3 linked regions of the Homo sapiens genome follow. The protein of the gene in region 2 interacts with the protein of the main gene of each other region in a pairwise test. Each region holds a gene or a part of one and is shown on either strand. Other genes may lie near its edges.

Evidence for each region.
Region 1: the proteins of SART3 (region 2) and ZNF71 interact in binary tests that used the Homo sapiens proteins (3 or more experiments, as listed by UniProt).
Region 3: the proteins of SART3 (region 2) and MEGF10 interact in a two-hybrid assay, tested with the Homo sapiens proteins (one large-scale study listed by IntAct).

What each region holds. Positions count from the first base shown.
Region 1 is NC_000019.10:56,598,302-56,601,801, reverse strand, and holds part of ZNF71 (endothelial zinc finger protein induced by tumor necrosis factor alpha), read right to left. Parts: intron 296-3,500; 5' UTR 244-295; coding exon 211-243; intron 1-210. UniProt on the Homo sapiens protein: May be involved in transcriptional regulation.
Region 2 is NC_000012.12:108,526,674-108,530,173, forward strand, and holds part of SART3 (spliceosome associated factor 3, U4/U6 recycling protein), read right to left. Parts: coding exon 3,469-3,500; intron 1-3,468. UniProt on the Homo sapiens protein: U6 snRNP-binding protein that functions as a recycling factor of the splicing machinery. Promotes the initial reassembly of U4 and U6 snRNPs following their ejection from the spliceosome during its maturation.
Region 3 is NC_000005.10:127,433,796-127,437,295, reverse strand, and holds part of MEGF10 (multiple epidermal growth factor-like domains protein 10 isoform a precursor), read right to left. Parts: intron 2,610-3,500; coding exon 2,475-2,609; intron 1,936-2,474; coding exon 1,807-1,935; intron 1-1,806. UniProt on the Homo sapiens protein: Membrane receptor involved in phagocytosis by macrophages and astrocytes of apoptotic cells. Receptor for C1q, an eat-me signal, that binds phosphatidylserine expressed on the surface of apoptotic cells. Cooperates with ABCA1 within the process of engulfment.

The DNA.
Region 1 (3,500 bases), on a different chromosome or scaffold from region 2:
GCTAGTTTGGCCATTCCAAAGCTTCCCTGTCCCCTACAACTGACCCCACAGCCAGGGTCAGCATCATCTATAAGCACAGCCCTCTTCATCAGGGCAGACACAGCCCCAGAAGATGGGACTGGGGGCCTTGGAGAGGGTTCGAGCAGCAGAGGCTCACCCAAGGCAGGATCCAGCCTTTGGAAAGGAGAGTGACAGGGCAACATGACTCACCAGTGCCTCATCAGTCAGCAGCTGAGCAGCCATCCCTCTGCTGCCCACGGTGAATAGGAAGACAGGCCTGCGGTGACCAACAGTGCTGTAGGGAGAAGAAAGAGGGAGGCATGCTGAGAGACCAGGCCTAGGCTGGCCTCACAAATGTAGACAGGACAGACACACACCCACTGAGAGACAAGCAGAGACAGACAGATAGACACACATACACATACATCAACAGTGAGTATTTAGAGGGCTTACTGCATGTAGGGAACTTGAATGTATATCACTTGATCTTCCAACCATCCTGGAAGGTAGGTACTACTTCTACCTACCCATTTCACAGATGAGGAGGCTGAGGCCCGAGGAGATTAAACCACTTGCTCAAGATTACAGAGCTGGGACTGGAGTCAGGCAGAGTATGTCTGGGTCCACAGCTTAGCCTCCAGGCTACAATGCCTCACAGATGCACTCCCATGTACACTCCTATAGATATGGTTAACACACATACACTCACACACATTCCCGCAGGCTGCTGAGGGCCACCGGACACCCTGCCTTCTCCCAATGGCCCTGCCCGGATCCCTCCTTGAGTGTGAGTGCTGGACTGAGGCCCCCTGAGATGCCCCAGAACCACCTGTGGCCTCTTTGGGCACTTCCCCCAGACTTCATGGGGTTACCATGAGGTTCAACTAGCAGATATGAGTGTAAGGAACTTCCACCCAGGGGCTCTCAGAGCCAGATTCGCCTAGAGAAATGCATCTTGATTCAATTCTCCTCCAGTTCTCCTGACAAGCTCAGGATAAAGTCTCAAGTGGAGAGATATCTTAACATCCCTGCAACCCATCACTCGCCCCTTGAAACAAAAGAAAAGCAGGAGAATAAGATCCTGTGATTTGCAACAACATGGATAAAACTGGAGGTCATTATGTTAAGTGAAATAAGCCAGGCATAGAAAGACAAACTTTGCAAGTTCTCACTTGTGTGAGCTAAAAATTAAAACAAACTCATGGAGATAGAGACTAGAATGATGAAGAAACCTGAGGCTGGGAAGGGTAGTGGAAGGGTGGGGGGAATGTGGGGATGGCTAATTGGTATTAAAAAAATACAGAGGGCCGGGCGCGGTGGCTCACGCCTGTAATCCCAGCACTTTGGGAGGCCGAGGCGGGTGGATCATGAGGTCAGGAGATCGAGACCATCCTGGCTAACAAGGTGAAACCCCGTCTCTACTAAAAATACAAAAAATTAGCCGGGCGCGGTGGCGGGCGCCTGTAGTCCCAGCTACTCGGGAGGCTGAGGCAGGAGAATGGCGTGAACCCGGGAAGCGGAGCTTGCAGTGAGCCGAGATTGCGCCACTGCAGTCCGCAGTCCGACCTGGGCGACAGAGCGAGACTCCGTCTCAAAAAAAAAAAAAAAAAAAAAAATACAGAGGGTTGCAGTGAGCCAAGATTGCACCACTGCACTCCAGCCTGGCAACAGAGCGAGACTCCATCTCAAAAAAAAAAAAAAAAAACAAACCCCAAAAAAACAAAAAAACACACACACAAAGAATGAATAAGACCTACTATTTGACAGCACAACAGGGTGACTATGATCAATAATAATTTAATGATACATTTAAAAATAACTGGCCGGGCGCAGTGGCTCATGCCTGTAATCCCAGCACTTTGGGAGGCCGAGGCGGGCGGATCACGAGGTCAGGAGATCAAGACCACGGTGAAACCCCGTCTCTACCAAAAATACAAAAAATTAGCCGGGTGTGGTGGCAGGTGCCTGTAATCCCAGCTACTCGGGAGGCTGAGGAAGGAGAATGGCATGAACCCAGGAGGCGGAGCTTGCAGTGAGCTGAGATGGCAACACTGCACTCCAGCCTGGGTGACAGAGCGAGACTCCATCTCAAAAAAAAAAAAAAACAAAACACTAAAAATGTAATCAGATTGTTTGTAACACAAAGGATAAATCCTTGAGGTGACAGATACCCCATTTATCCTGATGTGATTATTACACATTGTATGCCCGTATCAAAATATCTCATGTACTCCATAAATATATAAACCCACTACACACCCAGAAAAATTAAAAATTAAAATTAAAAAGAAAAGCAGGGTTCAGGCCCCAAAGTTAGGGTGACCATAATATCTCATTAGAACTACCTGGCTTTACTTCAATTTGTTTTAAAGTTTGTTTCCCTTCTTACAGCAAAACTCAGCTTCTTTTACAGCAGTCACACAGAATACCCTTTTAAACTAAGTTGATTTAAATTAAAAACAAAAAAAAAATCAGTGAGCCAAATCAAGTAAATGGCAAAGTAAAAAAATAGGATCCATGACACAGATGAGGACAAATTCTTGGAGTCTGAGACATGCTGGCTCAGTCCTGGCTTCTCCCGTGATGGGGGCTCACTACCCGTGCCACCAACACCTCTGACTGGAAATGAGTTTTTCTTCTGCTATAAACAGAAACATGCCTCTCTACATCTCCAACCCTTCAAGATCACCCAGAAAAGCCTCAATCCTCTCCAACACAATGCTCTTGTAGCTGGTGCACCAATTCTCAAAGTACCAGAATCACTGGGGATGCTTATTAAAATCTCACTCAGAATATATATTCCTGCCCCCCACCTCAGATCCTCTGAATCAAACTACCTGGGTAGGGCCCCTGAATCGGTATTTCTAAGCAAGTTTCCCAGGTGATTCTGACACGTCTTAAAGCGTAAGAACCACTAAGACAAAGAAGAGCCTTTCTTAGGCCAAATGGCCCCAACTTCCACAAGTGAAAAGTAATTTTAATTGTAGGGGGGCATATATATAAGGCCAAGTTGGCAGAAGCCTTTGGAACTCAATCGGGAACAATTCTGCCCCCGGAGACATTTGTCAACGTCTAGAGACATTTGCCAAACTGTCATAATTTGGCAGGGGAGTGCTATGGGCGTTTAGTTGGTAGAGACTGGGGATGCTGCTACACACTGTACGATGCACGCGACAGGCCCCACAACAAAGAATGATCAGGCCCAAAGGTCAGTAGTGTGGAGGTTGAGAAGCCCTGTTGTAGAACAAAAGGATCACAAAGGTGTGGGCTGGGGGTTCCTACCACTTAATGCCTGTACCCGGGCACCACACCTGGCCAACTGTAATCACTCAGTGAAAATGTCCTCTGGGCTAAAACTCTTCAAAACTCTTCGTTGGCTTCCCCCACCATTAGAAATCACTCAAAGTCTTCACTGCTGCCCACATAGCCCTTATGATGTGCCCCTGATGGCCTCTCCCCTTCCATCTCCTCTACTCCCCTCTCCCATGCTTGGCCCCAGG
Region 2 (3,500 bases):
ACTCGGAGGGGCAAGCACCACCCCGAGAAGTCTTTTGTGATCCGCCTGACCTGTCCCACGACTTTCTGTGCCCCAATTACACTCGGGTAAGTGGGCTCAATCAAGTGGAAGTAATAACATAAATCCCCATTGTCCACTCTTAATTATACAAAAGGTCAGTGGATCTCAAAGTTCAGAAGGCAAATTCCAGGGCCCCTCTCCTACAAAGCCCAGATCAGCAGGGTTGGGATAGGACATGAGAATCTGCACTGGAAAAGCACCCTAGTGACTGATACCCGTGCCCCAGGGAGCACATTTTGGAAAGCACTACAAAGGATCTGTGGTTTCTAAAACACTTTCAATATGGCCTTGTGTCCTTAAGAGAGCTTAACCACAATCTTCTACTGCAGTCTGTCCTCACCACTGCCTCCAGAGGGCCAGTACTGAAGCTCAACAGACATCAGCCTCCGGCAAACAGACCTCCCCATCAGTTCACCCGCTGCCTTTCCAATGCAACGTAAGCCCTGCACACTGCTACTGTATTCAAGAGTGTCCCTGGGCTGGGTCCAGCTGACTGGCCCACCTACCACTCCAGCCTCCTCGACCACTGCCCCACCCCTCTCTAATGCATCTGAGTTCAAACCCAATTATCTGCTGCTCACAGAAAATGCCAGGCTGTGCTGTGCCTTCAGGCTGTACTAACATTGGCTCCTCCCTGTGTAGCTCAGACCTTCCCTTCTCGCTGCCACAGTCACTCGGTCTTCCCCCTGGATGCCGCATCTCTTCCCCCACAGTCTTCCTGGTACGAAGTTGACCCACTAGTGCCTTCTTTGGCCTCCACCAGTATTAACAATGCCATCTCCCACAGTCCTGATCACACGCCATGCCCTGATCACACACCACTGCGGTCACACATCACATTTGCCTTATTCTGCCAAACTGGGAGGCCAGTGGAGCAATGAGCCATCCTCAGTCATTTAGGAAAGCCCAAACAAGGTGTGCAAGCAAGGTCAACTCAACGATGGATGACTCCATTCCCAGTTCTCTCTGGCTCACACATCTGTATTAAGAAAGTATACAGAGTCCTTTCAAGTCCAGAGACAATTCTTTTTTTTGTTTTGTTTTGTTTTTGAGACAGTGTCTTGCTCTCTCTCCCAGGCTGGAGTGCAACGGCATGATCTCTACTCATTGCAACCTCTGCCTCCCGGGCTCAAGTAATTCTCCTGTCTCAGCCTCCCGAGTAGCTGGGAAAACAGGCACCCGCCACCACAGCCAACTAATTTTTGTATTTTTAGTAGAGGCAGGTTTTCACCATGTTGGCCAGGTTGATCTTGACCCCTGACCTCAGGTGATCCGCCCACCTCAGCCTCCCAGAGTGCTGGGATTACAGGCATGAGCTACCGCGCCCAGCCACCAGAGACAATTCTTTACCTTGACTGACTCTCTGAAATAAATATGACCCAGAGCTGCCCGTCCCTGAAATTACAAGGGTGAAAGAAACACTGCTGGAAAATTCCACTAAGTCAGAACCATTAAAAGCAGGGCCAAGGCCAGGTGCAGTGTCTCATGCCTGTAATAACAGCACTTTGGGAGGCCAAGGCGGGAGGATCACTTGAGGTCAGGAGTTCAAGACCAGCCTGGCTAACATGGTGAAACCCCGTCTCTACTAAAATACAAAAATTAGCTGGGCATGGTGGCTGGCAAAGTGTAATCCCAGCTACTTGGAAGGCTGAAGGAAGAGAATCACTTGAACCCAGGAGGCGGAGGTTGCAGTGAGCCGAGATCACGCAACTGCACTCCAGCCTGGGCGACAGAGCGAGACTCCCTCTCAAAAAAAAAAAAAAAAAAAAGTAGGGCCAAGCCTGGCAGGTCTGTGCAGGGTTGGGGCTGCAGCAGTGGTGCGGGATGCTAGAGCCTGAATGGAAGGAAGAAGACAGGCAGGCATGGGGCAGTGACAGGGACCCAGCAGCCTAGATCTGGAAGCCTGAGTGAAAGAAGCAAGGGTGTCCATGCAGGGCCGTGCCTGGCCCCGGGTGTGGGAGACCAAACAGGGTGGGGATGGCACATATGAGAAGGGGAGGCAGGCACAGGAAGTTGATTACATACCTACAGGGGCCGGGTGGAGTAACTGAGGATGCTGAGAATAGAGGGAGCCAAGTTTCTCAAGGTCAGAGAAGGGCGTGACACAGCTGGGCACAGTGGCTCACACCTGTAATCCCAGCACTTTGGGAGGCCGAGGCAGACAGATCACTTGAGGCCACAAGTTCAAGACCAGCCTGGCCAACATGGCGAAACCTGATCTCTACTAAAAATACAAAAAATTAGCCAGGTATGATGGTGCATGCCTGTAATCCCAGCTACTTGAGAGGCTGAGGCACAAGAATCACTTGAACCCGGGAAGCGGAGGTTGAAGTGAGCCAAGATCACCCCACTGCACTCCAGCCTGGGCAACAAAGCGAGACTCTGTCTCAAAAATAAATGAATAAATAAATTTTAAAAAGAGAGAGAAGGGCATTGCAAGTGTGAAGGGGAACCCTGTGGTGTTAGACCGGAACTGGAGGTATTGGTGTGAAATCATGACTTTCAGTATATACAAATAGTTACACAAGTAAATATGGTCATAAATATGTGTACACATGCACACGCACACGCACACACACACACACTCCCTACCCTCGACCACTCAGGCCTCAGAACAATAACCAACAGCAGTGAGCACAACTAGCACCTTCTAAATACCACTCATCACTCAAAGGAACCTTGGAGAAATGATGGATTCCAGGGCTGAGTTATGGAAAGTATAAGATGACCCTTGGGTATTGTGTGCTAGAAGGTAAGGAAATGATCAAAGAACAAGGGGACAGGTCAAAGGGACATAGAAGCCTGTGTGAAGGAACTCTTGCTAGCCAAACCTGGGATAAGTAGAGAATCAGCATAAATAATTCTCAAAAGGGTCATCACCAGTGATGGAACAAAGCGAATCACAGTCCACCTGATGGGACTCAATGGGCAGGCCACAGGAGCACTTGTGCACTATTCCTGCCCGAGATGCATGAGTGGAATCCAATGCTTAGGGAGCATCAGACACACCCAGGCTGAGGGGCACAACACAGCAACTGGCCTGCCCCCTTACAAGACTGCAGGTCATCAGAGTAAAAAAAAAAAGCTGAGGAGTGCTCCAGACTCAAGGAGATCCAGGAGACAGGACAACTAAACACAATAGTGCATCCTGAACCGGATCCTTTCACTACAAAGGACATTATCAGGATAAATGGGAACCCATAGCTCATTGCTAACCCCGGCTCTGATGGCTGCATTCTAGTCATGTAGAAGAGGGCCCCTTGTTTGCAAGACATACACCCTAACAGTGATCAAAGGGTAATGGGTATCAAGCTGGTAACGGTTCAGGGAAGAAAGTTCTTCATACTGTATTCGCAACTTCTCTAACTTTAAGACGTTTCAAAACACAATTTCTCAAGAGCTCCTTACCTTCTTCATCATCGCCCCACTCTTTCTCATCA
Region 3 (3,500 bases), on a different chromosome or scaffold from region 2:
AATAGTGACTCGTACAAGGTCACATAGATTAATAATAATATTTGTTATTTGTTAGACAAATACAGCTTTCCCAAAGCCACAGTGAGACTCAGTGAAAACTGTTGAAGCGTCTAGCCCATTTGATGCTCAGTGAAGCACTCTTTACCTAAAACAACCTATTCCTTAGATGATATTTAACCAGCTTCTGTAAACCCATTTATGTTCACAATATATTTTTCTGAGGTAACCCACTGCCATTAGGTTTTTCTCCCTATATTTGTTATGATCAGAGAATGGGAATAAGCATCACTCAACTTTATATTCCCAAAAGGTAAACGTAGAGATAGTGCTTTAAAAAATCATTTTCCCAAGGACACCTGCCCCTTTAAATGTACCCCTTTAAGTTTTCAAAGTCTGTGTTTTCACTGTGAAGGACTTTGCTCTCTTTAGACAGGCTCACAATCAGCTAAGAAGAAATATGAAGATGGTTCCACAGAGTCCATAAGGGAATCAATGAAATCAATGATCCCCAGGAGAAGCAAAGGCTTTTGCCAAATAAGTCAGCTTCCTGTGGAGTGATTATTGGGACAGGCAACACTATAGTCTCCATTCATAGTTGTGTTTCTATTTTTATTCCTTTCAGCACATTCCTCCTCCAAATGAGGAAGGGACAAATTTCCAAAATAAAGACTACTTTTTAAAGGAGCAATATAAATCAATCATTTTGTGACAATGATATTGGACCTTTTACTCTTCCCAAACCCATACGCCCAACCATCAGTCAGAGCCCTTGCAACACATGTAGATTTAAACAGACTGATTTCTTCTGAAGTGATGCCCCCAGAATGGAGTGAAATCATATCGCATAACACTTCTTTCACCAAAGAGCTACACTTCTGAGATTTATTAGCTCTCTTCCCTTATTCCTAAAAAATGGGGTACAGCCTGGACTACTTATGGAAAAAATTAACATTCAGAAAAAAATCTTCCAGCAAAAAATATATTGCTCATCAATTAGTATTTGCAGGTTGCTTGTAACTGTGAAGTTTGAATTAAATTATCAATAAAGCACCATGTAAAATGACTGCACACAGTCATTCTTTGATTTCTCTTATGTGCATGATGGGGGAATTCAATATAAACTGAGAGTGTTTCATAAAATTTAAAATGAATGAAACCAGATTACTCCATACATATGCTATTTTTTGGTCAAAAGTTGAATACTTTTAGACATTGCACTGACCCTTTCAAAACATTCATGAATGACTTATAGTCGATGTCATTTTTTTCATGACATGGGTGCTCTAAGAGTCATCTATATAGTCCCTTATAGGGTCACACAATTCCTGTCTGAAATCCAGTGGTGTGGAAGGCACTTGGGTGATGCCAAGGTGAAGCTAAGCATATTAGGTGGGCAGTTCGCTCAGGTTCCCAATAGGTTTCTAAGGCTCACATCATTTAATTCCATTTTTTCTTTCTCTGTAATTAACTCTCCAGATAAACACAAAATGAAGAGATAGATTTCTCAATACAGCTGTTTTTGCTTTATTTCAATGGACGATGAATCACTGAAAAGGGGATAAGGAAAATGTTACATATTTAGGTTCTTTCCAAGACATTATTTGGATTTAAACATAGGACCATTGCATAGAGGTCGTAATGGGAAAAAAAAAAAGAATTTTAAAAAAAGAATTTAAAGTAGAATGTGTCTTTTAATTAGTCATATATTCTTTCTTGATTATATAAAAACACTCATACTTCAATCCTAAAGAATCTGAAAACAAACAAATAAGAACAGTTTATTAATTGTTCTCAAACAAGACTTACGTTGAGAGCAGTCACTGCCAATCCAACCGGGGTAACACTGACAAGATCTGTCAATGGGGTTACAGGTTCCGTTGTTGGTGCAGGTACAAATTCCTGCACAGTTTTTCCCAAATCTGCCACTGGGACACACTGTGAATAAGCTATAGGTCAGTAACTCACAATCAAAACCCCTCTCGCAGAACCCTAGAATCTTAGCACAGGAAATAACTTTAAAGGTCACAGGCCCAGCTGCTCATTGGTAGCTATCTCTGCTCAACAGCATCCTTCATCTTGAATGGGCTCATTTTTACAAATCCATGAAGCCAAAGATTTGCATTAAGGCATCACAAACCAGGGGACATCATTGCACTTCTAGAAATATGACTTCACGACTTCTTGCTCTGGGAGTCTAAAATTCTTCCGCATATTGATTTTTTATGGGAGGACATGTCCAGCTAAAACTGAAGAGTAGCACATCTCAGGAAATAAAAAGGTTTTGCTGGAGTGGCAAGCCAGCTTTTCCAAAGCTCAAAGTCCTATCTGAGAAGCTGCAGACACAGCACAGCAGAAGACATTCCCAGCAGACAGCTGAAAACATGGCCTTCAGGAAGGCCAAGGGGAGGCCTGAGGACAGACTCTCCGGGGCGTGCTCATCACCACCCAGCTGTCCGGGATGCTTCGTGCCTTACCTTCATTGCAGAGGGCGCCTGTGAAGCCAGGCAAGCAGTCACACAGGCCGGTGATGTGGTGGCAGGGCCCGCTGCTGTGAACGCACTGTGGGCATGTCTGGCTGCAGCGATGCCCATAAAAACCAGGGGAGCAGACTGAAAACAGAAGGGAAATCAGCAGTTATCCTTCTGAGATGCGTTTGTCTCGCATTCCAGATCGGGATCTAGTTAAAGTTTTAGAGGTTAAAAAGCAAAACCTTAAAAAAAAGTAAAAAAGATACGGAGAATTTTCCAAGTAGAAAACAAGAACAACAAAGGAACAAAGGAACCCTTTAATGAGGAAAAGAAGCCACTAAACTCTGAGTTTCTTGAGAGCAAGCAAATGTCTTAGTCTTCTTTATTTTCCCATTTAAGGCCCCAGTTAGCTCAAGTCTTGGCATAAAGCAGGGCTCCAGGAATTTTCATTGAATAAATAAAGAGATAAAAAAATTGAAATACTAATAAGTCTCAAATAAGTACTCTCAAACCATTTGTTGATTCTTTATTCTTTAAGAGTCGTTTCTGGCAATAAAAATCGATCAACAGTCAAAATTTGAAGATTTTTCCTCCTCAAAATGGTCCAGGTTAATGACTGTAATCGAAAAGTGATTAACCAAAATGCTATATACTTAAGTTCTTGCCAAGATACTATTCAGATTTAAATATATGATAACTGCATAGAATTCTTATGGGGGGAAAGGCAATTTAAAAAATTAGAATAGTATAACTTATAATTAGTTACATATTCTTTTTTGATTGCATTTACTAAAAGATTACTTAATCTTCTAACTCAGAAGTCTTAAGGACCAATGTCAACAGTCTCCTTTTTCAACTTTGCAATTCCATTTTCCCCATAGCACTGATTTTAAGACTACTAGCAGGATGAATGATTTGCCTCAAGGTTTGGCTGATGTTGACGTCTGGTAATTGAGGTAAGGCCAATGCCAAACTGCTGAATAACATATTTACAGGTCAGTGAATTTCTAGAACACCATTCCAAAGCTTTCA